Linked DNA regions of Homo sapiens: region 1 is linked to region 2. Evidence: fine-mapped expression QTL. A gene starts in region 2. The other region holds a variant in brackets. All regions are shown on one strand. Distances are between the middles of the regions.

Region 1 (15,828 bases), 95 kb after region 2:
TGTTCGAGAATCTTAGAATAGTCTAAGAATGAAGAAGTTTAAATCCCTAGATCTACCCCAGTAGGCACCAAAACAACCAAATACTACTTCCAGATTCTTCACTCCAAAACACACCAGAAACAATTTTCAACATGAGGATTTGAAAGACTGGCAGAAAGAATGTTTGTGCTGAAGTTATTGAGGCCAGGGCTTGACTACTAATCCCACCCAGTATTAGCTGTAAGGCACTGGGTAATTTATTTTGCTTCTCTGGGTTTTAGATTCTATGCCTATTAAAATGGGACTACTGACTCTTAACTTGCAGGGCTGCTATAAGAATTCAAAATATGTCTATCTGCCAAGCACACAGTAGGTATTCAGTGCTACTTATGAATTACTCTAGGAACTAAGACAGTTGTGTTCTGTATGGGATAGGCGCTTTAAAGATCGATAGGACATGTTTATTTCCATCTGTGCAGAGAGATTGGGATCATCATACTTCAGTAACTTTTATTAGAAGTTTTCTAAACTGCCACCTGTGCTCGAAATGACATGCTAATTGCCACACATCTGACCATTCTGTTAAAAGCAAGATTTAAAAAAACTGCCTGCCCTTTTGAAGTGTGGTGTGGCTGTCCTGTGATTCCCTGGTGTTATCACCTAGCTCAGAGAGCTCTCTGTTTGTACGCAGAGCACTGGTATGTGTTTTCTCACACCATTTTTATTTTATTTAAAATTACCATAAATTACTTTCTCATTTATTTATTCATTTTCTTCCTAGCTAAACAGTGAGCTTCTGAGGTGGGTCTCCACTGTCAACACCTGCGTATGCCCTATGACACTGCATGTATCACACATTTAATGTTTCACTGATTGATTTTCTTTTTCTTTTGTCCTTTTTCCATTTAGAAAACAAAAATAATTTAAAAAAGCAAACTGTAAAATAAATATCTGCACAGTAAAACATTTAAGAAAATATAGGAGGGAATGCTGAAAAGAAAAACCCCTGTTCTAGACCCCCATAGTCTAGTTACAAGCCTCAAAGACAACAGTTGTTACTAGTTTCTTAGGTATATTTCAAGAAATATATTCTATGTATTTTTTTACAGAAATGGAACCATGGTATATACATTATTCTGTACTTTGCTTTCTTAACTTAATTTTAAAAAGATGTTATATATTGGCACAAAAAGAGCAATCTGGTTTTTTTTTTTTTAAATGACAGTGGAGTTCTCCATTGCATGGATTTACCTTATTTTATGTGACCAGTCTCATTATTTCTGGTCACTTAGGTTATAAAAATAACCACTGAAGTATAAGTCACATAAATAAACTGGTTTAAAATATACAACTCCATGGTATTAATATATTTACAGTTGTGCAACCAGTACTATAATCTAATTTTAGAATATACACATCACCTCAAAAATAAACCCCTGTACTTACTGGCAGTCACTCCCCATCCCTATCCCCAAACCTTGCTGCCATAGGCAGCCAATAATCTATTTTTGGTTTCTTACAGATTGGCTTATTCCAGATATTTCATGTCAACAGAATCATACAATATGTGGTTGTTTGTGACTAGTTTCTTTCACTTAGTTGTTTTTGCAGTTCAATTATATTGTAGCAGATATTAATATTACTATCTTATGGCTGAATCATATTTCATCATATGTCACATTTATTTATCCATTCATCAGTTGATGAACATTTAAGTTGTTTCTATCTTCTGCCTGTTATACAGAATGCTGCTATGAACGTTAATGTATGTCTTCGTGTGGACCTATGTTTTCATTTCTCCTGGGTAAATACCAAGAGTAGAATTGCTAGGTAACTCCATATTCAACCTTCTGAGGAACTCTGGATTGTTGCTTATTTTATGCTATTTTAGACAATTACAATTATAAAATTTTTCTTGTATGTATGTCTTTGACTGCAAGCATAAATGTACCTGTAGGATAAATTCCTAGAAAGTGAAATCGGTAGGTCAAAAGAACTGAGCATTAAAATATTTTGGTAGGCTGGGTGCTGTGGCTCACACCTGTAATCCCAGCACTTTGGGAGGCCGAGGTGGGCAGATCATGAGGTCAAGAGATCCAGACCATCCTGGCCAACATGGTGAAACCCCGTCTCTACTAAAAATACAAAAATTAGCCAGGCGTGGTGGCGCTTGTCTGTAGTCCCAGCTACTCGGGAGGCTGAGGCAGGAGAATCGCTTGAACCAGGGAGGCGGAGGTTGCAGTGAGCCGAGATGGTGCCACTGCACTCCAGCCTGGGCAACAGAGACGCCATCTCAAAAAAAAAAAGTTTTGGTAAGTAATGCCGTTTAGTGATTTTTTTTTTTTTAAACAAGTGGGAGAATACCTGTTTTACCATAACTTCACTGGCATGTATATTATCACACATTTTTGGTCTTAATAATCCTGATAGGTAAAACATAAATGCTATATCAATTGGATTTTCATATTTATAAGTGAGACTGAGCATTCTTTCATATGTTTATAAGACATTTTATTTGTGTGAGTATGTCTTCTTTATAAAGAATATTAGAAGTACAGCATCCTATTTAATTAAATAGCTGGAAAAATGAACATTCTCTTTTATGATTGGTATTTGATATAATACAGAGTTTCATATACAATACAAACATATTAGTAGATATTGTTATGTAGGTAAAAGTATCATTAAAAATTTTCAATCCTCGGCAGCCTTCAAGTCTAAGGACTTGAAACGCCTGGGTCACAGACTTAGAAAATCTAGTTTTACGGAATTTTTCCTTGCCCTAATTCAAAGCCATCTGCTCTTATCTTCAAAGGATTTGTAAACCATTGTGAATGGGAAATTTTGAAAACCAATTTAGTTGAAAACAAAGCACTGTAATTATATTAGTATGAAATCTTTTGCTTTGAATGCAAACTGCCAAGAAAATGTTAGGCAGCTTAGAACAGTCCAACAAAGTGGAAAGAAAAGTAATACTGAAACATCAATGTTTACATAGATAATCAAAGCTGAAATTAGAATGGAGGTGAAGAGGTAGAGATCAAAACAAATCTAATGATCAATGAGAGGAAAATAAGTACAGAAAGGCTTTGATCACTGTCATAAACTCTTCCAACTCAGATCTAACTTTAACATTCAATGTCTCTGAATAATTTTTTCAACAGTTAAAAATTCACCTCCCCAATAACTTTGTTGGTTATTCAATTATATGTAATCATGAAAGGTAAATTGTTTTTATAAATGAGTTTATTCATTTTCCAGTCATAAAATAATATGAAATTCAAATTAGGCGGTAATTAGACAGGATATTGCTGACTTTTGGATCTTTTTTTGGAAGGTTAAGTGTGACTTTAAGAAGGAAAAATGTCAGCATATAAGAAAAGTTCTTTGTCAGATGCTCATAGATTACAGGGTGTCTCTTCCCTCCTCTAAGATACAACATATTTGGGCATAAGGCAATAACTGAATATTCTTCAAATATGAAAAGTTATTTTAAAAGTGTACTAATAACTTCTATAGGAGCAAAGAAAGCACTAGAAATCAAGTTTTAGAAACATCCTCAGATGAACACTTTCAATTTTTGAGGGAATAGTGAATGTTTTGGCTAAATCAACAGTAGAAATCCTTTGAGAACACTTTTAGGATAAAATCAATATAAGCCAGTAATATAACATCTATAAGCAGAGAAGGAATAAACCTTGATGTGCAGAGGCAATAGCACATCCTCAGGGAGAGAGAGGGGCAAACAGAGGAGAAATAAAGCATGTGCTCCAAATTCAGCTGTCTGTGGGTGCCAGGCAGGAGCATGCCTGTGTGCACTGAGCTGGGAGCACGTGACCATGGTGAACAGGAAACTAATGCCCTGTCTCAGTGGGTGGCCACTGTGGGGCTCCAGCCCACTGTAAATATGTGAAGAAAAAGACTAGATTTTTCTATAAAATCCTCTACTTTTTGAATGTTGGCAACTATTAAAACAAAAGAAATCAATCAAACAAAAAACTCTGCACACCCAACACAGCACATTTTTGGGCTACGTTCTTTTTTTGTTGTTGTTGTTGAGATGGAGTTTTGCCCTGTTGCCCAGGTTGGAGTGCAGTGATGTGATCTCAGCTGACTGCAACATCCACTTCCCAGGTTCAAGCGATTCTTCTGCCTCAGCCTCCTGAGTAGCTGGGATTATAGGTAACCACCACCACACCTGGCTAATTGTGTATTTTTAGTAGAGACAGGATTTCACCAGGCTGGTCTCGAACTCCTGACCTCACGTGAACTACCTGCTTCAGTCTCCCAAAGTGCTGGGATTACAGGTGTGAGCCACCATGACTGGCCTGTGCTACATTAATTTATGACATACACCCTTTTTAAGTAAAGAAAGAGAAAGCCTCGCAAAGAAATTTTAATAAAGGAAATTGCCTGACCAGTGTGGTTCATCCAGGAAGCAAGCTTTTCCTTGCTAAAACTATGAAGTTTTGAAAGGGACAAATTAGACCATTAGACCAGGCAAAGAATTGTAATGCACTGGAGAAAGAACTAGAATTGCCAACAAAGAAGGCAGAGCTTCCCTGTAGTGCCTGGACAGAGCAAGTGTTCTTAGCGTGACTCAAAGGGAGATAAAGTGACTATGACTCAGTAAACCTGTAAGAAGCACAACTACATATACAGACATGTGACAAGAGAAGGTACTCAGTTAAGTTAAATATTTGCTACTTTTGCTATGGCAATGACTATTGTTGCCATTGCTTACAAAAAATAATCATAAAATTCATATGGAAGCAAAAAGAGCCCTGAGTAGACAAAGCAATCCTAAACAAAAAGAACAAAGCTGGAGCCATCACATTACCTGTCTTCAAATTATACGACAAGGCTATAGCAACCAAAACGGCATGGCACTGGTATAAAAATAGACACATAGGTCAATGGAATGGAATAGAGAGCCCAGAAAGAAAGCCACATACCCACAGCCAACTGATCTTTGACAAAGTCGACAAAAATGTACACTGGGGAAATGATACTCTATTCAATAAATGGTGCTGGGAAAATTTGACTGCCATATGCATAAGAATGAAACTGGGCTCCTATCTCTCACCATACACAAGAAATTAATGCAAGATGGAGTAAAGATTTAAATGTAAGATCTGAAGCTATAAAAATACTAAAAGAAAACCTAGGAAAAACTTATGGTCATTAGCCTAGGCAAAAATTCATGGCTAAGACTTCAAAAGCAAATACAACAAAACCAAAAATAGACAAATGGGATTTAACTAAACTAGAAAGCTTCTGTCAGTAAAAGAAATAATCAACTGAATAAGCAGACAATCTGCAGATTGGGAGAAAACATTTGCAAGCTATGCATCCAACAAAGGACTCATATCCAGAATCTACAATCAACTCACAACCCCCAAAATAATTTCATTAAAAAGTGGGCAAAGGACATTGAACAGATATTTTTCAAAAGAAGACACACATGTGGCCAACAAGAATATGAAAAAGTGCTCCACATCACTAATCACCAGAGAATTGCAAATTAAAACCGCAATGAGATATCATCGTACAGCAGTCAGGATGGCTATTATTAAAAAATAAAATAATAAGAGATGTGGGCAAGGATGTCGAGTAAAGGGAATGCTTATACACCGTTGGTGGGAATGTATATAAATTAGTACAGCTTCTAGAGAAAACAGTATGGAAATTTCTCAAACAACTAAAAATGGAATTACTGTAAGATTCAGCAATCCTACTACTGGATATTCAACCAAAAGAAAAGAAATCGGCCAGGAGCAGTGGCTCATGCCTCTAATCCCAGCACTTTGGGAGGCTGAGGCAAGCAGATCACCTGAGGTCAGGAGTTCAAGACCAGCCTGACCAACATGGTGAAACCCCTTCTGTCCTAAAAATACAAAATTATCCGGGCCTGGTGGCAGGTGCCTGTAATCTCAGCTACTCGGGAGGCTGAGGCAGGAGAATAGCTTGAACCCAGGAGGTGGAGGTTGTGGTGAGCCAAGATTGTGCCGTTGTACTCCAGTCTGGGCAACAAGGTGAAACTCCGTCTCATAAAAAAAAAAAAAAAGAAATAAAGATATCATTTTACCAAAAAGACACCTGCACTTGTATGTTTATCACAGTACTATTCACAATAGCAAAGTCATAGAATCAACCTAAGTGTCCATCAATGGATGAAACTTATAAAATGGATGACACTGATAAAGAAAATGTGGTATACGTGGAATACTACTCAGCCATAAAAAAATAAAATTATGTCTTCTGCAGTAACATGGATGGAGGTAGAGGACATTATCTTAAATGAAATAATTGAGAAACAGAAAGTCAAAAAGCACCTGTTCTCACTTGTAAGTGGGAGTTAAATTAAATATAGACGCGGACATAGAGTGTGAAATAATAGACCCTGGAGACTGGGAAGGGTGGGAGGGTTGGCAAGAGTGAGGGATTGGAAATTAATTAATGGGTACAATGTACACTATTCTGGTGATGGTTATAATAAAAGCCCAGACTTCATTACTACACACGGTATCCATGAAAAAAAACCCCTGCACTTTATCCCTTAAATTTATATAAATAAAAAAAGAAAGGAGGGACCCTGAGTCAAAATATAGCACATAAACATAAGATGATAAATCAGGTTTTAGAGGAGAGAAAGATATATAAAGTTGGTGCAAAGGTAATTGCGGTTTTTGCCATTACTTTTGGTAAAAGCTGCAATTAACTTTGCACCAACCTAAAAGAAGAAAAGACACAGAAGGAAAAAAATATAAAAGCCACAAAGAAGTAGTGGGGCACAGTGGAGAGAGCGAGCGTTTTGAAATGAGATGATGCGGGGATCAAGCTTCTACTAGAGGTGTGATCTTGGGTAGTTCTCTCTCTCTCTCTGTCTCTCTCTCTCTCTCCCTTGTTTTTGTTTTTGTTTTAAGTTATTTTTTATTACACAAATAATACATGACTCATTTCTGGAAGAAGCTTTACAACACAGATAAAGTAGAGTTTCAGATGACCTCTCACTCCTCCTTGCCCTCTCTTTCCCAGAAACTACCATTGTTTATCTTTGCAGAACTTTTTCTAAGTGTTTACTGACCTTTGTATGTATGCACAGGAATATCTGATTAAAAACCTAAATTGCTCTGCATGCTGAATATTGTGCTGCCTATTCTGGGCCTATCTTGTTCTTTGTAAATGTTCCAGAGTATTCTGTGTTAGGGATAGTCCAGGTTTGTTCAGTCTTCCCCCTTGACTAAAAACAATGTAATGTTAAGCATCTACTTGTGCTTTTCTGTGTAACTGCAGGGCAGTGGTGGGGGGAAGTGTTCTAGGACAGAGATCTAAAAGTAGAATTGCTGAGATGAAAGATTTGCATATTTTATTTTCCTGTAGGATCTGCCAATTGTCCTCCAGTGAGGCTTCAGCAATGTGCCTCAATGAAGTCTTGTCTCCTCATACCCTCTCCGTCACTGGACGTTTGTAATCACTTTTTAATTTCATTAGCACAATCACTTAATCCTCCAGGGCATCAGCTTACTCTGTAAAAAGGCAAAAATTCTACTCCACAATAAAGTTATGACAATTATATTATTTAACAACAGTGCCCATCACAAACTCACAAAAGACACTTTATAAATGTTAATTCTCTTCCCTTATTATGGATATTTTAGTGAAAAAAAATTAGTCAAACTAGATGTGTCTCTGTGTAACTTTCTTACGGTGCTAATAAACCTTTGCAATTGGTAGCATGTGTTTAACTGCTGAGTAAGCCTATTTTTTTCAAAAACTTTTAGCCCACATTCATATTCCATTTTTAATTAAAGTGCCGTAATCAGGAATATTTCTCTTGAGTTTAGCATTGCTATATTATCATGTCATGTATTATAACTCAGTTTTCCCACTACATTTCTTCTTTCAATTACTGTAAAACCTTTGTTTCTGTAGTTCATCATGACAATGTTTGGCCTGCACTTGTTAGCCTGAGACAAGTAAAGGTGTATTTTAATGACAATTAATGAAAAAGTTATTCTTCCATTAACTTTTTTTTAGACTTTCACTGAATGAAAACATAATGTAAAAAATTGTGTAAGAAATTTGTGGATTTCTGAGAATGTCCAAAGACCTTGGGTTGATCTATACTGCCCTAATTGCCACAGTTAGGTTATCAATTGCATGTAAAGATACCTCCACCTTATTTATCTAATCTGTATACTTTGCTTAATAATTCTAACTATAATATCAAACAATGCCAGGTTTTACAGCTTCTAAGTCTAATTCTTAAATCTTGTCACTATATTATAAAAATTAAGTTAAAAACCGTAGTCACATTTACTGTTGTGCATATAATCGTGTATAAAGTCCAAACATAATAGTCAATTGGTGAAATGAACACATAATTAATGAATATGTAATAATCATTCATATTAATTCCTTTTTTCTTTTTTTAATCAAAATAGGAAACTTTTTATTTTTGTCACTAAATACAATTAGTTTCCCTGATTGTAACCCATTATCAATGTCACCTAACATATAGATGGTCTGTACAGAGGTGAACACCACCAGCATCTTTCTCTACATGTATATTAGGACCACTGAACTCAGAAAAAGCAGAGTTGAGCTTGTTAAATTATTGTCTCTTTTAGAAACTCTTACCATTTAAAGGAAATAGGAAGATTTAGGTAGCAGAATACTTGCATAATAACTTAAAAAGTTAAAAGCTTGTAGTGATAAAATAATCTTGTGCACATTCTCAGAAATTTTAGGCAATTGGCCTTCTTGCAGATCCCAAGTTTAGAAAAAGACAACTAATCATTGCAACATCTGGGCTCAGTTCATTTGCCATATGGTTGGTCGTGGTGCATTTCTGGTGTATAAGTCAACAGAACAATCATGACCCAGAGGTGAAGCCAAGCCATATATATAATCACAAAAACTCATGCTATGGGGTATCTTTGGAGAAAAATTCCCAGACGAATACTAAACCGG[TC/T]AATTGAACTAGCTTTGTGAATTTTTCCGTACATTCCTGCCAGATTAGTTTCTGTGCCATTAAAAAGAACAGGAACATTTCACAGAAGAGTGCCTTCACCATTGACAATTTCAGACATATTAATCGAAGACCCGTTACTACTACTTCCAGAGGCAGAGTCCATCTGCTGTTTGAGGTGCTCCAGTTGAAAGACCAAGGAGGGCCAGATGCAGTGGCTCACGCCTGTAATCCCAGCACTTTGGGAGGCCGAGGCGGGTGGATTACCTGAGGTCAGGAGTTCGAGACCAGTCTGGCCAACATGGTGAAACTCTGTCTCTATTGAAAGTACAAAAATTAGCCGGGCCAGTCGAAGGTTAGATAGTTCATGTGATTTGCCATCTTCATTAGGTGTTGGGATGTGCTCAGTGCAGGCAGCATTTGATGATGCATTTTCCAAAAGAATTTTCTTCAGTGGTTTTGATGGTGGTTATACTGGGGTTCACAGAACTAACACTTGACGTCCAAGAACTCTGAAAGACAGGTGTCTTTCCTTTTTCCTTTTTGATTTCCACCCTCCCAGTAGGCTCCTTCTGTGAACTATTAAGGAAATTAAAGGGCAGCTCATCATCAGGTTCTGACTTTCTTGTTCACACAAATTGGGATGAAGGCCTAGGAACAGATGAATTTTCAATAGGATGAGAGGCCTCCACTGGTGTCCTAGATCTTACTTTCACATTTGCAGTGCCAGCTAAGATGGTGGCTTTTTGATTTCAAATGTTATCAGTTGCTGATGAAGTATAAGTAGCTACAGGTCAAGTCTGATATGTCAAATCTGTATTTGAACTTCTGTGAAGTTCAGTATAGTCAGTATTTTTGCTATATATGATGTTGCTGGTGGTGGTGTCTTTCCTACTGAGAGCTGTTGCAGCCCCTTGATCAACTCAGTTTAAAAGATCTTCTGTCTTTCCAGCAAGATCAACAAACCAAGACATGATGGCAGCAGAATAATCCTATTGGCAAACCTGAGGACTCTGGGCCAGCTGCACCGTGGTCTTGTCGCCGTCCTGGGCCGGACCCCCTCAGCAGCAGACCTGGAGGGGGCCCAGGCTGAGTAAACTTCCCTCCTTTTTTCTGATTCCCTACATCCAATACATGAGAATTCCCCATTAATGCTACAGCTGAAACTCATTCTAGATTCATCCATTTCTTTCTCCTCCATTTGACCTCCCTTGTGCAAACTTCATCATCTCTTATCTGGACTCTTAACAGTAGCCTCCTCACCAGTTTTTTGGTGTCATTATTATTTGCCTACAGCTGATGCTCTACACAGGAAAAAGAGGTCCTAAAATGCAAACCAGACTATAACATTCCTCTTCATTATGGCTCCAATTTCAATGTCTTCCTATCATAAATTCCAAACTGTGACCTTCTGGATCTATGGAATTTGGTCAGTGCCTACTGCTCCAGCCTCATCTGGAACCATTATTCCTCCTTCATCTGTGATATTCCAGCCCATCCAAGTCTTTCTGTTTCTTTAACCCCATAAAGCTTGTTCTTACCTAAGGAATTTGTACTCCCTGCTCTCTGATCAGAACGCTCCTTTCCCCTATTATTGTATTACCATTCATGTTTCTGCTTAAGTAAATTGCTTAAAAGAATTTTTAGACTGGGCACGGTGACTCACACCTGTAATCCCAGCAGTTTGGGAGGCTGAGGCGGAGGGGTGACATGAGGTCAGGCATTTGAAACCAGCCTGGCCAACATGGTGAAACCCCGTCTCTACTAAAAATACAAAAAAATTAGCTGGATGTGGTAGCACAAGCCTGTAATCCCAGCTACTCGGGAGGCTGAGGCAGGAGAATTGCTTGAACCTAGGAGGCAGAGGTTCTAGTGAGCCGAGATCGTGCCACTGCTCTCTAGCCTGGGCAACAGACACTCTGTCTCCAAAAAAAAAAAAGTAAACCCTGAAGATAGCATTTATACATTTTCTTCTATTATAGTATAGAACAGTAGTTTTTAAGTTGTGGAATCAGGACTCGCAGCATCAGCATCACCTGAGAACTTGCTACAAATGCAAGTTCTTAGGCCTCATGCCTGACCTACTGAATTAGAAACTCTGGGTCTGGGGCCCAGCAATCTGTGTTTTAATAAGCTCTCTAGGTGATTCTAATGCACACTGAAGTTTGAGAATCACTGATATAAAATAAATGGTGGGTACACATGTCTCATTTGAAGTTCAACCTAAAGAGGCAACAGGCAGGCTGTGAAAAGACCAATAACTTCAGAAGTTATTGCACTACTGAAGTGCAATATTGCCTGGTATATACTATCGTCACCTCCCATTCTTTTGTTTTGAAACACAACTTATTTGTTTGCAATTCTTAATAATACCACGTTAACTACCAGCTGACACTTTCAGTTAGTATTTCATTGTCTGAGAGTTCCTTCTGGCTATCACTTGCCCTTTCTGCAAGAGCCAAAGCATACGTGGGCCAAACATTTGCTGAAGTAAGAGAACCTGGGGATTGTAAGGTGGGAAAAGCCTTGTTAAGATGCCATGGCATTACCTCTTTTGTAATTGGACAAACGAGGAAGTGACAAGCAGGGGTGAAGGATGGTAAAGATAATGAGGAGAATCAGAAGTCAACTTTAGGAAATAATATATTGAAAAGATTGGGGAAAACAAGGCAGCATGGTGAGGAGCAGTCTTTAATGCATTCTTTATATAATATGAACCACCAATTTTCTACACAGAAAGGGAACAGAATCAGACAAAGCAGACCCACTGAAAGGATAGAATCCCTTTTTAAAAAAATAATTTTGGCCGGGTGTGGTGGCTCATGCCTGTAATCCCAGCACTTTGGGAGGCCGAGGCAGGTGGATCACTTGAGCTCAGGAGTTTGAGACCAGCATGGCCAACATGGTGAAACTCTGTCTCTACTAAATATACAAAAATCAGCCAGGCATAGTGGTGTGCACCTGTAATCCCAGCTACTTGGGAGGCTGAGGCAGGAGAATCACTTGAACCTGAGAGGCAGAGGTTGCAGTGAGCCGAGATCATGCCACTCCATGCTAGGATGGGCGACAGAGCAAGACTCCATCTCAAAAAAAAAAAATAGTAATTTCAACTTTAATTCTAGATTAGAGGGTACACATGCAGGTTTGTTACATGGGTGTATTGTGTGACACTGAGGCTTGGGGTCCCAGTGATCTCATCACTCAACCAACAGGTGGTTCTTGAGCCCACACCTTCCTCCCTCCCTCCTGTGTCTAGTGGTCCCCAGGGTCTATTGTTCTCATCTTTACATTCATGTGTATTCAGTGTTTAGCTCTTACTTATAAGTGAGAACATAAGGCATTTGGTTTTCTGTTCATGTGTTAGTTCGCTTAGGATAGTGACCTTCAGTTCCATCCATGTTGCTGCAAAGGACATGACTTCATTCTTTTTTGTTGCTGCATAGTATTCCATGGTGTATATATACCATATTTTCTTTATCCAATCCACTGTTGATGGGCACCTAGGTTAATTGCATGTCTTTGCTATTGTGAATAGAGCTGCAATGAACCTACAAGTGCATGTGTCTTTTAGACAGAATGAATTATTTTCCTTTCGGTATATACCCAGTAGTAGGGATTGCTGGGTTGAATGGTAGTTGTGTTCTACATACTTTGAGGAGTCTCCAAGCTACTTTCCACCGTGGCTGAACTACCTTACATTCCCACCAACAATTTATAAGTGCTCCCTTTTCTCTGCAGCCTTTTCAGCATCTGTTGTTTTTTGATTATTTTAATAGTAGCCATTCTGATTGGTGTGAGATCGTTTCTCATTATGGTTTTGATTTGCATTTCTTTGATGATTAGCGATGTTGAGCATTTTTTCATTTGTTTATCGGCCACTTGTACAACTTCTTTTAAGAAGTGTCTGTTCATGTTCTTTGCCCATTTTTTAATTAGATTTTTTGCTTGTTGATTTAAGCTCCTTGTAGATTCTGGATATTAGACCTTTGTCAGATGCATAGTTTCTGAACATTTTCTCCCATTCTTTAGGCTGTTTACTCTGTTGGAAATTTCCTTTGCTGTGCAGAGGCTCTTTAATTAGGTCTCACTTGTCTGTTTTTGTTACTGCTGCAATTGCTTTTGGGGACTTATGGGGACTTATCCATAAATTATTTACCAAAGCCTATGTTGAGAAGGGTAGTTTCTAGGTTTTCTTCTAGGATTTTTATAGTTTGAGATCTTATATTTAAATCTTTAACCCACTTGAGTTAATTTTTGTATATGCTGAGAGGCAGGTGTCCAGTTTTATTTTTCTGCATGTGGCTAGCCATTTATCTCAGTATCATTTATTGAAAAGGGAGTCCTTTCTCCATTGCTTATTTTTGTCAGTTTTGTCAAAGATCAGATAGTTTGTAGAAGTGTAGGTTCATTTCTGGGTTCTTTATTCTGTTCAGCTGGTCTATATGTCTGTTTTTGTACCAGTATCATGCTCTTTGGGTTACTGTAACCTTATAGTATAGTCTAAAGTCAGGCAGTAAGATGCCTTTGGCTTAGTTCTTCCTGCTTAGTATTGCTTTGTCTATTCAGTCTTTTTTTTGATTCCAGATGAATTTTAGAATAGATTTTTCTAATTCTGTGAAAAATGACATTGGCATTTTGATAGTGATAGCATTGAATCTGTAAATTGCTTTGGGCAGGCAGTATGGCCATTTTAATGATATCAATTCTTCCAATCCATGAGCATAGAACATTTTTTCCATTTATTTGTGTGGTCTCTGATTTCTTTCAGCAGTGTTTTGTGGTTCTCCTTGAAGAGGTCTTTGACTTCCTTGGTTAGATGAATTCCTAGGTATTTTATTTTCTTTGTAGCTATTGTAAATGGGATTGTGTTCTTGATTTGGTTCTCTGCTAGAATGTTGTTGGTATATAAAAATGCTACTGATTTCTGTACATAGAATCCCTTTTGGGCCTATCCTATATCACTTATAGAACAAATGACCAAGGAATCAGAATTTCTGTTCCTAGAGATAGAACCATAAAACCCTAGGACTGAAAGTCTTTGAATTTACTGTTCCAGTGCTTTTTATATAATTTGGCATAAACAAACCAGTTGATTATTTGTGAAGCCATCTTCCTGGTTCTGCACAGGACTTTAACACATGGAATAAGAATATCATTTAGACTTAGGGATGACATAGCATAAGGAAACCCTGAAAAACACTCTCCCTTTTTATCAAAGATGAAAAATCCAAGGTCCAGATAAGTTTAATAAATGATTTACTCAAGGACACAAAGCTTAAAAACATGAGCTCCCGGACTAAAATCCTGTTTTTCTTCTTTAAGTCTGAAGTTCTTTCTATCATGCCATGAAATCAAAATAAGCTCTTTCTCTCTTTTTAGTTTGTTTAAAAACCTTAAAAAGATAAAACATAAGCATCTTATTTTTGTTAGTGTTTTCAGCATCTCAATGGTGAAATAACTGAAAAGGTACATGTTACTCTCTAAGATGAAAGAGGAAGCTAAGAAGAGACTAGGCAAAATGCAAAGTCAACAACTAATAGACTAAGGGCGAACAGAAGCAGGGAGACCTCTTCTCCCATAGAGAAACCAGTGTCTCAGCTTTTCTTTGTGATGAGGAGTACTGTAAAATTTTTTAAAAGTTATGGTTCTATTTGTTTGCTTGCTCTTACCTGTGTGTGTGCGTTTGTGGTGGGATGATTATTTAGGAGTAAGCAAGATTGACAAATAAACAATAAGGAGGAGGGGAATTGCTGATAGTCAAGTCTCTAAGCTGGGGAAAGGGAAAAGGGGCATGAGGTAGGAAAAGAGAACAGAATGGAGATCCAGCCAGGCAGACACTACATTGGCTATTCAACCTTCTTTAAGGAGAAACCAAGAATATGTCAAAGAAGGAGCCCAGTTGGTAGGCGTAGGGAGTTTGACAACAGCAACTGGGTTAGACATCTATCAGACAGGGAGACAGGGTTTGGAGAAGACTCCGGTTGATTGATGACTCTGATATAAGCGGTGAACATTGTTGGATTGAGTTGACACCATTCTATCAAGAAAGTGACTCACATGGGCTGGAGTATGCCGGTGTCCAATGGTTGTAACTAGCTGGGGGCTTCTTTTGACTCATTGGGGAAAACCTCTGCCTTCTTCTGGGACTTATAAAAGAGAAGTGACAAAACTTGCTGTGAAAGCAGGTAGAAACGCTGCTGTGTAATTTAATAATAGGCTCAACAATTTATATGCCCTTTTCATGCGGGTACATGCTGTGTGGAATGTTTCTGAGAGATTTTAAACTGCAGGCTCCTAACTACCCAGTATTCTTCCTGGCCACTCCTTAAAGAATGCTGGGCAGAAAGGAATCTCAGAACTCATTGGCTGGTGCCTCCAAATGGGGGTAGGCAGTACCAGCTTTCAAGGAAGTGTTTGGAATTGAGTGCTGGTGTTGGGGGAAGGGGTTGCTTTTGGTCATTACAATAGTGAATAACCTAGTGAATGCTACTGGCTTCTTAGGGGCTCAAGGTCAGGGAGTCTAAAATTCCTATGATAGGAGAATTCTAATGGATAAGGAATAGTGTGTCCCAGACATCAGTGACATTCAAGAATATGGAATCACTCATTTTATAGCTGAGATCCAGAAGGATTATGTGCTCCAGGGGCCGGTACAGAGCACAGATCAGCTCTCCTCAAATACAGCCTCCCTTCTACGGGAACTCATTCTAGTGCCCCACAGTGGCCTCTTCATATTTGTTGTCTTGTGTTCAGAGAATCCCAAGTCATTTTTTTTCTGTTTTTTTTTTTTTTTTTTTTTTTTTTTTTTAAAGACAGAGTCTCACTCTGTCGCCCAGACTGGAGTGCAATGGCGCGATCTTGGCTTACTGCAACCC
Region 2 (15,828 bases):
CCCAAACACCTCCCACCATGCCCCATCTCCAGCATTGGAGATTACAATTCAACATGAGATTCGGGTGGGGACAAATATCCAAACTGTATCATTCTGCCCACGGCCCCTCCCAAATCTCATGTCCTTCTCACACTGCAAAATAAACTCATGCCTTCCCAACAGTCTCCCAAAGTCTTAACTCATTCCAGCATTAACTCTGAAGTCCAAAGTCTCATCTGAAACAAGGCAAGTCCCTTCCACTTATGAGGCTGTAAAGTCACAAATAAGTTATTTACTCCCAAGATACAATGAGGATATAGGCATTGGATAAACATTGCCATTTCAAAAAGGAGAAATCAACCAAAAGAAAGGGGCTACAGGCCCCATGCAAGTTCAAAACCCAGCAGGGCAGTCATTAAATCTTAAAGCTCCAAAATAATCTCCTTTGACTCTATGTTCCACATTCAAGGCACACTGCTGCAAAGGGTGGGCTCCCAAGGCTTTGGGCAACTCTGCCCTGTGGCTTTGCAGGGTTTAGCCCCCAGGAATGCTCTCACAGGTTTTAGTTGAATGCCTGTGGCTTCTCCAGGTATAGGATGCAAACTGCCAGTGGATCTACCATTCTGTGGTCTGGAGGATGGTAGGCCCCTTCTCACAGCTCCACTAGGCAGTGCCCCACTGGGGACTCTGGGGGGCTCCAACCCCACATTTCCCCTTGGCCCCACCCTAATAGAGATCCTCAATGAGGGCTCCACCCCTGCAGCAGGCTTCTGCCTAGACACCCAGGCTTTCTCATACATCCTCTGAAATCTAGGCAGAGGCTCCCAAGCCTCAGTTCTTGCACTCTGGGCACCTGCAGGCTTAATAATACATGTAAGCCATCAAGTCTTATGGCTTGCACCCTTTGAAGCAGCAGCCCGAACTGTACCTGGGCCCCTTTGAACAAGGCTGGAAGCCTGAGTGGCTGGGATGCAGGGAGCAGTGTCTTGAGGCTGTGCAAGGCAGCAAGGCCCGGCTAGCCCAGGCCCACAAAACCATTCTTTCTTCCTAGGCCTCTGGGCCTATGATGAGAGGGGCTGCTGTGAAGGTTTCTAAAATGCCTTGAAGGCCTTTTCTCCAACTTCACGGATATCAGCACTTTGGCATGTGTTTAATTATGCAAATATCTCTAGCACGTGGTTGCTCTATAGCCTGCTTGAATTCCTCCCCTGAAAAAGCTTTTTCTTTCTTTGCCACATGGCTAGGCTGCAAATTTCCCAAACCTTTATGCAGTGCTTCCTGTTTAAAAACAAATTCCAACTTTAAGTCATTTCTTTGCTCCTACATCTTAGCATGGGCTGTTAGCAGCATCCAGGACACATCTTGAACACTTTGCTGCTTAGACATTTCTTCCGCCAGATACCAGAGGTCATCACTCTCAAGTTCAAACTTCCACAGGTCCCTACAGAATGAACAGAATGCAACCAAGTGCTTTGCTAAAGCATAATGAGGGTGACCTTTGCTCCAGTTCCTACTAAGTTCTTCATTTCCACCTGAGACCTCATCATCATGGACTTCATTGTCCGTATCACTACCAGCATTTTGGTCACAACCATTCAACCAGTCTCTAAGAAGTTCCAAACTTTCCCTCATTTTCCTGTCTTCTGAGTCCTCCAAACTCTTCCAACCTCTGCCTGTTACCCAGTTTCAAAGCTGCTTCCATATTTTCAGGTATCTTTAGAGCAATGCTCCACGCCCACTTACCAATTTTCTGTAATAGGCTGTTCTTGCACTGCTATAAAGAAGCATCTGAGCCTGGGTAATTTAAAAGAGGTTTAATTGGCTATTGGTTCTGTAGGCTGTACAGGAAGCATGGTGCCAGCATCTGCTTCTCGGGAGGCCTCAGGGTGTTTCTGCTCAAGATGGAAGGTGAAGCAGGAGTAGGCATCTCACATGGCAAAGTAGGAGTGAGAAAGAGTAAGAGGGTAGGTGCACACTTTTAAACAACCAGATCTTGCCAGAACTCACTATTGCAAAAACAACACCAAGCCATCAGGGATCCATTCCCATGGCCCAAACACCTCCCACCAAGCCCCACCTCCAGCATTGGGGATTACAATTCAACATGAGATTTGGGTGGGGACAAATATCCAAACTGTTTTAGCTTAAGAGATCACAATTTTCTCTCTTCTCTTCTATTGACTCCTTTCTTCTTATTGATTCCTACCCTATGATATACACCCTCATCATCTTATCTATTTTCATACATTCAAATCTTCAGCTCTTTTTCCATTTATATCCCTTTTCTCAACATCTTACACACAGAACAATCAGACTAGAAATTCAGGGCAACTAAAACCTCCATTCCAGTATTTGCTGCCACCTTTTACACATTTATATAATCACGTGAAATTCAAGGTGCAAAGCTGAACTCATTATCATCCTTCCCAAAATGACTTCTCCATTTTATGGCACCATCAATTTCATTGTCCCTTAGGACAGTAATCTTAAAGTACTCTTTTCCTTCTAATCTCCTTAATACTGTACTATTCTTTTTCCCATGTCTCTCACTCCCTTCTTCCAGTCAATTAATGCCTCAGTGATTATCTGATGGATGCTGGGGGAAGCGGATGTTAAAAATGGGTAAAACAGGCCTCCTGCCCTCAAGAAGCTAAAGATCTAGTGAAGGGGGAAGAAACTGGACAAAGAACTAAAGTAAGACAATGGTAACTGCAATTTAGAAAATAATAAATAAAGACGTAAAAAAGCAGAGAAGGAAGCAATAAATTCCCACTGGGATAAGGAAAGATCTCCAGAAATGGCATGTGACCTCAACCTTAAAGAATTAGGACTTCTATAGATAAACTGTGCTGGAAATGCAATTCAAGGCAAAGGAAATACCTACGCAAGGTCAAGCGAATATTAAACTACATGCCATGTTCAAGGAATAGCAAACATTCTTCTTTGACTGAAAGATTCTCAAGTAGGGGCATACAGTCTCCACGGAGAAAGAGGTGGAATGGGGGTTGGTGCTTTAGACTGGCAAACTCTCCCCAATCCTCTCTGAGAAGGACTGTATGTAATGAAGTGAACTATGCAGAGAGGCAGATATATTGAGATGTGTATGGTTAAAATAGTACAGAAGAAAACCATATGGGAGTAAATCAAAAAAGGCCTTGAATGCCAAACTAAAGAAATGTGGACTGTATTCTGTGAGCAAAAATTAGCCTAGAAAATGTGTGTATGTGTTTTGTTTTGTTTTTTTATTTAAGAGAACAACAAGATCAGATCTAGATTTCTGGGAAATAATCCTGGCAGGCATACAGTAGACCGAGTGAAAAAAGGTGAGAAGATATTACTGCCACACGATGACATAATGAGGATATGAACTGACAATGGGAACAGAAGGAGAGACTGAATTCAACAGCTATTTCAGAAGCTAATCAGAGGAGTTTAGCAATACAACAAAGAGGATAAGCAGCAGATCTCTAGCTTGAATAACAGAGGATGGCGGAAATACCTAGAATGTGAAAAGTGGGTACACTTTGGGGTGCAAAGTTTTACACATCACAACTCTGAGATGATTATCAGACACATACCAGTCACTCACTAAGCCCTGTGACACTGGTTAAGTTACCTGTTTGAGTTTTAGCCCTTTAAAATTTCAAAGCCTATATTCTCAACTGTAAAACAGAGACAATAAGTGTAGCTAAAACAGCTGAATATTAAGTAAAATAATGAAATCAGTGCCTGGCACAAAACTAGTATTATAGTAATAGTATGTATAATAGTAGAATGTGGAACTTAAAAATGCCCATAAATTTTGCAAGAGGTTACTAGCATCTTTTAAGAAATTATTTTCAGTACAGAGGGAGAGTTTTGCTTACAAGACTTTGTTAAGCAATAAAGTTGTGGAGTGAAGACAAACTATTCTGTCTGTAGAGCCTTCAAAAAAAAGTTTTTGTAATATTGTCGTTATCATTCCATATCTCCCACTTTCAGCCCATGCCTAACATAGTACCTGGTCCATGTGAAGAACATAAAAATTGCTTGCTGAACATGAGAAAACTGAGCCAACTGTAAGGGAGAAATGAAGAGAAGATCTTAGTTCTACAAAGAATCTTGAGGAAACAGTATTAGAAGCATAAACGTTTTTCCAAGTTACCCTTGGAAAAGAATAGCAACGCTTTATTCTTTGAATCAGGGTAAAGACAGTAAGTCTGGGCAGACAATTGAGGAATTCACACTGGATGGGCAGCCTCTACATTTTAATAAAGAAATAAAATTCACTGCATAGAGTGGGGGGACTACAAAATCAGTCTGAAATCTGAAGAAAGCAAATTAGATAATTCTTCCATTTTAATATGTATTTGACTTCATTTCTGTAGCCAACGCCATGGTCCAGTCTTCTATCATCCGTCAGATTATATCAGCAGCACCCTAGGCAGCTCCTCTGCTTCCTAACTTTCCCCTTCCCAGGGTATGGTATATTCCCAAGAGAGCACATATTTCCTTCCACTATGTCCACCATTATTCTTTTAAGAAGTCAACCCCTCTATGAGACTTCTCTGATCCTTTTACCCACCAGACAGTTAATCATTCTCTCCTCTGGCTACTATTGGGTTACCTCTGTTTCCTATATAGTTTGATTACTTAATTTATTTTTCCACCTGCAATCATTTCCTTATGTCTATTCCAATGAAACCCTTAAAAGGGGGAAAGAGTTTCCTCATTTTTATTCTTCCAGCAGTTAATTCAGCATCTGGTATATAAATGTTCAGTCAATGTCCATTTTGTCTAACTGAATGATTAAACAAATGAGAAAACTCCTAACCAGAAGAAACTGGAAAATAAAAAGTTAGAGTTCAGGGCCGGGTGCGGTGGCTCACGCCTGTAATCCCAGCACTTTGGGAGGCCGAGGCGGGTGGATCATGAGGTCAGGAGATCGAGACCATCCTGGCTAACAAGGTGAAACCCCGTCTCTACTAAAAAAAAATACAAAAAATTAGCCGGGCGCGGTGGCGGGCGCCTGTAGTCCCAGCTACTCGGGAGGCTGAGGCAGGAGAATGGCGTGAACCCGGGAAGCGGAGCTTGCAGTGAGCCGAGATTGCGCCACTGCAGTCCGCAGTCCGGCCTGGGCGACAGAGCGAGACTCCGTCTCAAATAAAAAAAAAAAAAGTTAGAGTTCAAATCTACATCATTTTGGAACCTTTCTGCTTTTCTAGGTATTAGACAGCAACCAAGAGAGTCAGTTTTTTAGTTCTTAGTGGAAACGTAAAGGAGTTAATCAAAAATTATAAAATTCAACTATACTTTTAAATAAATTATATTCTAATAATTATATTTGAACTAGTGTGTCCATATTCTGGGAATTCACTTTGAACACAATAATTAAAGTATACCAGGAGGGGTTTACCCAGGAAGAACACTGTATCTTTTCAAGTGATTCAGTACCAGTAAAGAGATGCACTACTGGACTGATAAGACAGTCTATCCTTGCAGTACAAATGGCGAGAGGAAGCATTTGGGCTTCAAAATACATTTTGGCATGCATTACAGACAGTATTTAATAATATCATTAGCAAATATTGGGGACTTTCACAAATTAAGTAGTTGTCTGAACAAAACTCAGAGCAACCATTACCAATACGCTGACTGTAAAGTCTACTATAATGAAGTTCCTAAACTAGATAAAAATTAATCCATCAACAATTTTTAACTGAGGCACTCTATGTATGAACCACAGCACTAACACAAGTACCAAAACCAACGAAACTTAGAATTCTTCTGAGCCTCAAGAAGCTTGCAAGGCTAGCCAAGTCATTATTAAATAGTATGAAATGTCCTGGTGTCAGAGACAAAAATTCTAAGGTTCTATGAAATACAGTATCACATTTTATCCTAAGTGAATATAACATACTGCACTTCGCTTAGACTTAATTTATTGGTAATGTCACAGATTGCTTTACAATTGTTATATTCAAGAACTCTAACTCAGATAGACTATACCCAATTAGTATAACAGTATGTTTCAAAAAAAAAAGAAGCTCGAATACCATAATTCCTTATTAACAAGTTTATAATATTCAAAACAACCGTTTAAAGTATTTTTAATGTGAGTTTTAAAACTGTGATTTCACAATGTAGGAAGGCAACTAATGTTAAATATCACTTACAAAGTATCCGGTCTTATGCCAAGTACTTTAATTAAGAACTAGCTCATTTACTTTTCACATTCTTAACCCTTTGAAGTTATCTCTTATTTTAGAAATGAAGAAATCAGGGGTAAAGCAAGGTCAAATAACTTGCCCCAAATCACCCAACTATTAAATCTCACAGCTGAGGTTACAATCCAGAATGATTTGACTTTATAGTCAACTCTCTTTTCACTACACATTGATGGATCCTTTAGGGATTACAATGACCATGTCCTCTATTTTATAATGAGCTTTATTAGGTAACTACACAATGAATCTCTCAAAGATTAAATTTAAAAAATAAGAATAAAAGCAAACACTGCCTTGGCATTAAACAAAAAAATTTTTGGTTGCCCAAACTTTATCTTTTTACATACTGTAATCTAATCCACAAACAGCTGCCCTTCAGCTGCAACCCAAACTGCCTCACAGTTCTCAAATTATTACTAAACTTTAATTCCTCATGAATTTTCTTCAAGCCTTCTTTGAACAATGAAATGTCTGTCACAACAGCAACTTTTTAAAACAATAGTATCACTATAAAATGACTGATTCAGATTAATTCCAAACTTCCTTATGATTTAGAAATACAGATCTCAAACAATCCCTCACTCTTTATTTTTGCAATCAGTTTTAAATGGCTGTGTATACTTTATTCCAAACTGAAGTACATTTTGTCAGGGCAAGCCGAAAACAGCATTTTCTGCACTATCTATATTAACCTGGAAATACCTATGGACATAGGTGCTTACTAAATTCTCAGTTAATATGGCATTTTAAATAGTAAACAGTTACCTGTGTGCCTCAGTAAAACTGGAGTAAGCCAAAATTATCAAATCAGATGTGTACCTAAGCTCTTCCACAACTCAACATTTTTGACACCAAGCAGAGAAACCACTATATATAGGAGCTCGACGAACTCAATTTAAAATACAACTATATATTTCCAGCACCACATCTGAGCAGGTTTTTAATGCACAAGTTAAACTCAAGTTTATTAAGGGCTCCCTTCACCTTCATCTAAAACACATATGCCTGTATATAAATTAAATCACTCACTAATTACATCTTTTACAGACCTGAAATTGTAGAAGTTATCCTTGTTAGGAAGTTTTCTAGTGAATCTATTTTATATAGATTTTTCACATGTGTGTTATAGTCAAGTTTCCAAACAGTTGCACAGAAGTCAAAAGCTTTACATCTTTCTATACTAATTCTCAAAACCGATCTGCTGAAAAAAATGGTGGAAATTAGTGCATTGATAATCTAATTAGTAGCCATTTTCAGGATTTAAGCTCTACTATATTGTATTATATTTTAGAAACTGTCTTGTAAAAGGACCTAGTTCACCCAAAACTAAGTCCCTGAACTTTCAGAATAAAATATTAAGTTATAAAAATGTACTCTTGTAGCTAAGTGAAAGCTGACCATTCAGTTTATAAAACAGTAATCTTACATCGTGATAAGCAAAATAAAACAAATTAGAAAATGCACTATGCTTTCACTCTAGCCGTTGTCAACAAGGAGCCCAGCTTTAACAAATTACTGTAGATAACAGTCATTACGTCAGGTACGACATAGGGTAAAAAACTGATCTCATACAGAATGTCTACAACAAGTTTTTTTGTTTACTTCCTAAGGTGTTTTATAGACCTCAGAAACTGATTCTGTACAGCTGAACCGGGTTACACTCCAAGCTACAGCCCGTGTGAAATATGACTTCGTCGGAATCAGTAGGCTCAATCCTGTTTACCGTGGAAGAGAAAAGAATCTTGTACGTAACTACTAAATCTTCAACGAGATAATGTCGAATAAACTCTAGTACTGTAAGTGATAGAGGAAACACTGGCTAGTAACGGGATTAGGTCATTAAAAATATCACCCGAGTTTCCCCAGTTCGGAAGGTGTAAACAAACCCATCTCCACTGCAGAAGGTAAACAATGAACCTGCAGCAGGGTGAGGGGGCGGTCTTTAGCCAACTACAGTCCCAGCGGCCCGGGAAAGGGAAGCAGAAGGGAAACAGCATAAACCAGACATTTAGCAGTAATGACCAGTTCTAGGTTTCACTACCAAGTTATCAATGCTGCGGGTCCCCACAGGACGGTGGGCAAAGGGGAAAGCAGTCACGCAGTCGGCAAGCACCGAGCAGGTCCGGCTTCTGCTCCGGGGACGGGGAGGGCAGGATGTGGTCGCTCTTCCCTCAAACATCCTCCTGCAACCTAAATAACAGCCTCTACCTCCCTCCAGCTGCCCCTAGCTTGGGCTGCCGGACTCCGGGATAGGTGCAAACCACTCTGCCGGAGCTCGAGCCCAGAGGGTCGCCGGGTCTGCCGAGTTCCACTCGGGGCTCCCCCGCACCCGCAGCAGCCCGAGGCCCGGAGAAGGGCTCGGGCGAGGGAAGCGGGCGCTGGGTAGGGGGATGGGTCCGGCGAGGCGGCCCCGGGCTCGGTTCCCGCGGGCCGGCAGGCGGGGCTCCGGCTCTGGCCCCCGCACCCCGCCGGTCCCGTGCGGGGCCCGCCCCTGCCTCTGGCCCCCAGCCCCGGACCCGGCTCCTCCCCAGCAGCGCGCCCTCGCGGCGCCCGCGGCGCCCCGCGTTACCTCGGGTCAGATCCAGCGGGACGTTCTCCTCGCCGCTGTCATTCCGCCCTGCGCGAAACAGACACACAGCCCCAATTAGGATTGGCTCGCAGGCCAGCTGCGGCTGCCCTGGCTCCGGCCAGCGCCCCGGCTCGCTCCCCAACCCAGGGCCAGGGGAAGGCAAGTGCCAGGGGTGGCGGGCGCCGGGCGGTGGGGAGTGAGGGTTGCAGCGGGCTTACCTCGTACTCGGAGGTTCTTCAGAGAGCGGCCGCGGCCGATCGCCGCCATATTGACGGGTTTCAGTCACAACACCGGAAACCTCGCCCAATCGCGCGAGAACCCCTTCCCCTCCCCGCGCGCCGCGCCCGCCCCCCGCGGCACCTCCCCCGCCCCCTCGGCGGCGACGGCGGCGGGTGGTGCAGGCTCGGCCCCAGCGCTGAGGGAGCACTGAGCCGACCCAAGGTCTGCAAGGAGTTCGCGGCACCCGCCCGCCCACGCCGGACCCGGAGGGCACGTCCGCCGGGAGGGGCAGTTCCCACGAGGAAAGTCCCATTGATGCGAGTTGGCAGTGTAGAGGATGCTCCCCTCCGGCCGCCGCGGAAGCCGTCGTCCAAATGCAGGCGAGCGGGGAGGAGGAGGCCGGGATGCGGCCGGCGGGCCACCTGCTCTCGCCGGCCTGCCAGTCTCCTGCTTGCTCTGAAGCCCTGCCATAGACGGCCCCGCTCCCCCGTGTATCCACTGAAACATTTTTTTATAAAAACGCTGCGCACAGTTTTAGACTCCTTTCCTGGAATCGCTTTGCTCCAACTAAGTTAACACGTAACAAAGTTTGTTTTCCAGCCTCGCCCTTGATCTTCAGAATGCCCCTCTCGGCTAGGAGGGCTTCTCCAAGTGGAAGTGGTTAGGCAGTTTTGTTTTTGGCCGCCAGGCGTAGGACGCGAGAAGGGGGTGCAGCGGCCGGGGACCAGGGCGGCGGTCCCCGCGGTGGGATCGCGCCAGCGCCGGGAGGCCGGGGAGAGGGTGTTCTCTGCCGGGAGCCGAGGCGAGGCTGCTGGGTACTGTGTCCGGCTTTTATGGCTCTGCAGCTCCTAGGATCGTGGCTCATGCAGGTGTTGTGGATTAATCTATTTTATGCATAAGCCTATTAACATTAGGGATTTTAATTCTAGAAACTGCTTAGTTAATACGTATGTGTACACACACACACACACACACACACACACACACACACACACACACACACACACACACACACACACACACCTGGCCACTGACCCAGCAGCTTTCTCTTGAACTACATTTACTTTAAAGAGAGGAGCGATTTGTCCTCTCCAGTTCCTCAGCTCATCTTTCTATTCCATGAGACTGAAAGTTAATTAAAAGTGGAGATCTAGCCTTAACCAGTTCTGTTTTCCCAGCTCCCAGTTAATGCAATATCTGGCACAAATAAGTATTCAATAAATATCTGTTGGATGAGTAAGTGCCCTGGATTTCTAATTTATTCCAATTCTCTGCTTACTTTAAAAAAGAAAAAAAAAGCAATATTGGGGATATTTGTTGAAGTTGTTAATAAGAGTGAACATTTGGAAACACTTAAATGACCAAAGGTAGGGATTATGTAAATTATGTCAACGATTAAAAGTGAAGAGGTAGACTTAGTAATAGGAAATAATGTTCATGATATTAAATCAAGCAAAATATTACAAATTTCCTGTTTTATAATAAAAGTTTAAATATGTACGAAATTAAAAATATACATTATAAAATATTTTATATGTACATGTATGTTGAAAAAAGTCTGAAAATATACATGAAAATGTTAGCTGATTTTCTCCCCTCATTTGTGGAATTACACGTGCACTTTTTTGTTCTTGTTTGCTTGTCTCTACTTTTTAAATATCCTATAGTTAATATATGTCATTTGTAAAATAAGTGGTAAGAAGAAAAATAAAAGGAACATAAAGTAGCATCATCTGGAAAATAAAATAGGAACACTGCTTCCTTAGAATATTGCCAATTATCTATATATTCCAGTTCTTTTTTTTTTTTTAAACCAAGTCTACAATCAGATATCTGCGGCTGATACTGCACTTAGATTTAAGGATGTAACACAATTACAGTACTTTAAAGAAATGTCTTCTGGCATTACCAGTAGTAGTTTTAATGTCAACAAGCGTGCTCCCTCCGTTATAGCTTTAAAAATCTTGGTGCAATTTATTTATTCTAGTTACTGCCTAAAACAAAAATCACAAAACTTGAGGTCTGGCAGAGGGTTGGATTTCAACCCTCCATGTATCACCACATTTCACCCTTAAAGAAAAGTAGAGATCTATCAGTAGAAATTATACCAGATTCTTACAGTTGTTCTGATTTTCAACAAATCTTTTATCATATTATAAAATCCCTCTATATTCTACATTAACTCCTTCCTAATACAATTTAACTTCATTTTCTCTCGGTGTTTTATGAAAGTTGAGTACAACTAATCTACTTTTAAGTTACTTGAGGTACATAAGTGCCTAAATCCAGTAGTATTTTAATCATTATAACTGTATGCTATTAAAGACAATTATTCAATTACTCTATTTCTTGCAGGAGAAAAAATTACATTCAATCTTTCATCGAAACTAGTTTTTTCTCTGTTACTATTTCAGTCGTTTGAGTGGTTAGGTTCTCCATATTTGCTCTTAGAGTGAATGGCAGGTCTGGTGAAAAGGAACAAGTTATTAGTGTTTGCAAGTGACACTCAACTAGGAAGCAGAAGTTTAGATAAATTTTAGTAAGGAATACATTTTATAATGTGTTTGCTTTTTAAACAGTAGCACTACTTTATTGTTTATAGTCAGATTGATACTTGTTAAAACCCCTAAATTTTCTTCTTTGATACTTGCCAATTGCTAGCTATTCCTCCTTTTGAAACTTCTTTTTCTTCCTTGCATCTTTTAGCCGACCCATATGACTTACTCATTTTGTTTACTTCTTACTACTTCTCCAATTTTTATTTTGATTCTAATCTGGTCATTGAGAATGTGACTTCCTCTTCTTAGTTTTCGTTTCCCAGCTAGGTTTCATTTGCTGTGTCAGTGACTGTTTTTTTTTTTCTGGTAGTATTAGTCATTGATAAAAAATGTTCTATAAGAAGATCGAGTCCAGGACCATACCTTTGGAAGATAACTGCTTAATTCTGAGGATACAATTACTCCATTCATAGTCACTCCCTTGGTTCTATTCTCTACCCTCCTGCATGCAGTTAATAATTCTAGTATATAACTAGAATTCTAGTAATAATTCTAGTATGTAAACCATATTTTATCGGTTTGGGATACAGTTGTAATACTGAACAGAAACAAAAGCCTTATCAAAATCTTAGTTCCCTTTAATCTCTCTGCCTTGGTACATAGGCCATTTGAAGATAAAGCAAGTAAAAAGCCACAAAATTTGGTCAGACTATTTCTTGGTAACTTCATAGTTAAACCGCACATTTGAGACATCTAAAGGCCATTTACACGACAAGCAATGAATTAAATTTAACAAATGTTACAATCCCATCCAGTGTTAATTATGTCTTGGTCACAGCAGAACAGAGCCCCTGAGTATTGTGTCTTTAAATTTTAATCTCTGTCCCAAAATCTCATATAAATTTCCTTTTAAATAATTCTTTAAAGAGACTCTCTATGACTAACAGTTTTAAATGAAGAATAAACCTATGTTTATGGAAGATGAAGATATGTTAAAAAATGAAATCTAGAAGGGTATGCAGTAAAATTTCAACAGTTATTATCTACAGATGGTAGAATTTGGAGTGATTTTTCTCTCCCGTTTTCTCATTTTACTTGTTCCCAAACAAATTTTTACTCATGAATTTTTTTAGGAAAACTATTTTAGAAAAATTTTGTTGGCTATTCTAAACCAAAATTATAAACAGTTGATTATAATAATGACTTACTTAACAGGTCATTATAAACAATCAAAATTATTTGTGCATCTGTTCATTAAAAAAAGAACTTTTGCACATACACTGCAATACATATATATTCACTTTTTAAATTAAATTAGAACTTAAAACATAAACACAAAATAAAAATGGTTAAAAGTAATTTTTAATGTTATTTTACTAATGACACGAATACAAAGCAATGGGGCTGAATATACTTCATTATTCTCGACATTTCTTGTTATATACTTTGTGATACTGAAATTTAAAAGTCTAGTTCTAAGAAGAGTTTATGTGGGTATAGGGTTTTAATAGCTGAGACCTCACAAAATGCAAAGTTAAAAATGGAAGAACTACTGTATTGGCCGCATTTCTAAACCATAAAACTCATTTTCCCATTTCGTCCACCCAGTGATACAAAAGCTTTTTGAAATGTAATTTGGCTAACAAATATCCATCTTCCCTAATGTCAATCAGTTTTCCTATCAAACTAGTAATTTGGCTAACAAATATTCATCTTGCCTAATGTCAATCAGTTTTCCTATCAAACTAGAAGACATAACATTTAGAAATTTTCAGCAAAATGGTTGCAAAACCATTTATCTGAAAGATTTTGAAGCAGATTGGGAAACTCTGTTCCCATGATTTTCAAGTGTGCAGATATGAAAATTTATATATGTGACACATTTATATTTTAAGTTTTTTCAGAAAAAAATCACAAAACTGAAACACTTTCAAATATCTGTTTTCTAAATGCTCTCATCCTAGCACAGGTTTTTTGGAAGTATTAAATTTCTTAGTTATTGTTATCACATCTACCTTGAAGGGAAATTTTTTTTTAATTTTTTTTAAAAAATCTGATAGGTAACATGCTACTCGAAGCCACCAGTCATCATGAAAAAAAAGCTTGCCACTAAATAAATAGTAAACACCTGTATAATACAAAAGATTTTCTTCACCTCTCATTTCAAAGTGTGTGAAAATTAAACTTTTTAAAAAGTCTTATTTATACAAAATTATCACATGTGGTACTATCTCTGTACTTCTGTATGAACTCCTTTTTAAATTGATGGGAACTGCTTCATCGATTTTCATAAAACATTGTTCTTATTAAGGAAGTTGTTTACTGATAAGGACACCTGGTATTTGGTACTTTTACTTTGATGGCACAGAAAAAAGCTTAACAGAATTAAGCCAACACCGTAAGCTAAGACATAGTTAGAAATATTTATTCTTTCATTCAACTGCACACACAGCAAAGCTTGTTCATAATGCTTATTTGTTCAAATGCCTTTTTCTTCAAATCTTCAGCCTTCCCCTGCCCCACCCCTTTTTCTGCTTTGGTTGACCAATAGGTTTGCGTTTTAGTTTTGTCAACAAATATTTTTCTCTGTTTTTTTTTTTTTATTCCCAGCCATTTTTTTAACCACAGTAGGAAATAGCACTATATTCCCAACTGATATGTTCCTTTTTGTCTGTTGCTAATAAGAAATCTTTCTCTTTTCACAGGACAGGGTGGCTCATGCTTGTAATCCCAGCAGTACGGGAGGCTGGGGCAGGAGGATCCTTTGAGCCCAAGAATTCCAGACTAGCCTAGGCAACGTAGCAAATCTCGTCTCTACTAAAATAGTAATAATAATAATAATAATAAGTTATCTAGCATGACGTCATGCTCTTGTAATCTCAGCTATTTGGGAGGCTGAGGTGGGAGGCTCACTTGAGCTCAGATTTTTCAAGGCTGCATTGAGCTATGATCACACCACTGCACTTCAGCCTGGGTAGTAAAGCAAGACCCTACCTTGAGAAAAAAGAAAAAAATCTGTCTTTTTGCAAAGTAATGGATTCAATATTGCATGACTTCTAACATCACAGAAAAAATACAGAAAATTATCTTTATTTTCTGTTTATGTTAAAAATATTTTGCTAATCTGGTAGCTTTATAATAGCTGACATCTCAAGGAGCAATATATAATTAGACTCAGATAATAGTGAAGGATAATGCATATAAATTCATATTTCACATAATTCTAATATTTTTAATTTTAAAAAATGTTGGCTGACATTGTGACATCTGATTGCATTATCATTGCTTTTTCCTTGTAATGAAGCTGATAAAGTGCTAAAATCAGAAGTATCAAGTCTGCCATATTTTAAAACCTGTACTGTGCTTTTATTATTTGTGTTACATACAATTTCTTTGCAAGATTCTTCTTAAGCCGTGTGTACATTTTGTGAGGAATAGTTTATAATATCCTCCTTAAATCCACTTACCTAGATAAAGTATATGGCCATATGCCAAAGTGGAGAGAATTCCTGAGTCTGTTGTGAATTCTTCTGAGTTGTAGAACTCCCAATCTTCCCTCAGAATACTTATATGACTCATGTCAATTTAACCTTCTGACAAGATGACAGCTCCATTGTTAATATGTATAATAAATATTAATAGTTTACCTTTTTCTTTCATTTCATTTCTTTTCTTTTTTCTGTTCTCTCTCTTTCTTTCTTTTTTTTTTTTTTGAAGGGGGCACGTAGGGGTAGGGGACTAAAAAAATTCCTCCAAATTCCTCCACAAAAAAAAAAAAATAACAAAATAGGACACTGAAGTCAGAGTGAGGAGCAGTGAGCAACTAGAAAACTGGAAAAAAGGTCCTCTCTAGCTATCTAGATCTGAAGACTAAGCCACTGCAAGGTAGGAAAGCAGAACATCAGGCTCTTGCGTTAAGTCCAGGATCCTAGAAGTGGACCAAAGTGGACCCAGGTTGGTAGTGCCCCCTGGCTTTCAGCAGTAGCAATTACAAATCCTTTTTGGGGAAAGTCCATTACTTCATCAGTTCCTAGGATCGTCACATATCAAGATCAAACAAATAAAAGCTCACATTCAAAGATCATTAAACTCATAGAAAAAACTGACTATGAGTAAGAATCCGTATAAATCAAAATAAACAGAATTCTATGCCAAGGACTTCAGATATTGATGATATGAAACAAAATACAAAGTAGCTATTCCATATTAAATAATTTTTTTCAAATGAATTTATTATTCTATCCATGATAGAATAATGATTGTTGGATGTACCTTCCTACAATAAACAATTGTTAATTTAGACAAATATATGAAACAGCAGTGTTTAGGCACTGGACAATAGTGTGGCACTATGACC

Which allele goes with the higher level. Alleles are on the strand shown, and positions count from the first base shown. SD is a standard deviation of normalised expression in the study named.
In carriers of allele T in region 1, the expression in fibroblasts of the gene that starts at base 9,043 in region 2 tends to be higher than with TC alone (small effect, 0.35 SD a copy in GTEx).

The links. PIP is the estimated chance that this variant, and not a neighbour inherited with it, causes the effect.
Region 1: its variant is the best candidate, but not a certain one, in a credible set for the expression of RICTOR in fibroblasts (GTEx, PIP 0.87).

Annotation. Positions count from the first base shown.
Region 1 is chr5:39,160,407-39,176,234 of GRCh38, forward strand. All of the region lies in intron 2 of FYB1 (FYN binding protein 1), which reads right to left. It also overlaps the pseudogene GOLGA5P1. Among named protein-coding and RNA genes, the nearest start is that of FYB1, 51 kb to the right of the region's middle. The variant TC/T (reference allele first, on the strand shown) is at 8,956.
Region 2 is chr5:39,065,357-39,081,184 of GRCh38, forward strand. It overlaps RICTOR (RPTOR independent companion of MTOR complex 2), which reads right to left and starts at 9,043. Exons shown (of 38, transcript NM_152756.5): 1 at 8,973-9,043; 2 at 8,755-8,802. The coding sequence starts at 9,021. RefSeq lists enhancers at 7,876-8,402, 8,929-9,455, 11,792-11,891 and a silencer at 8,341-9,240.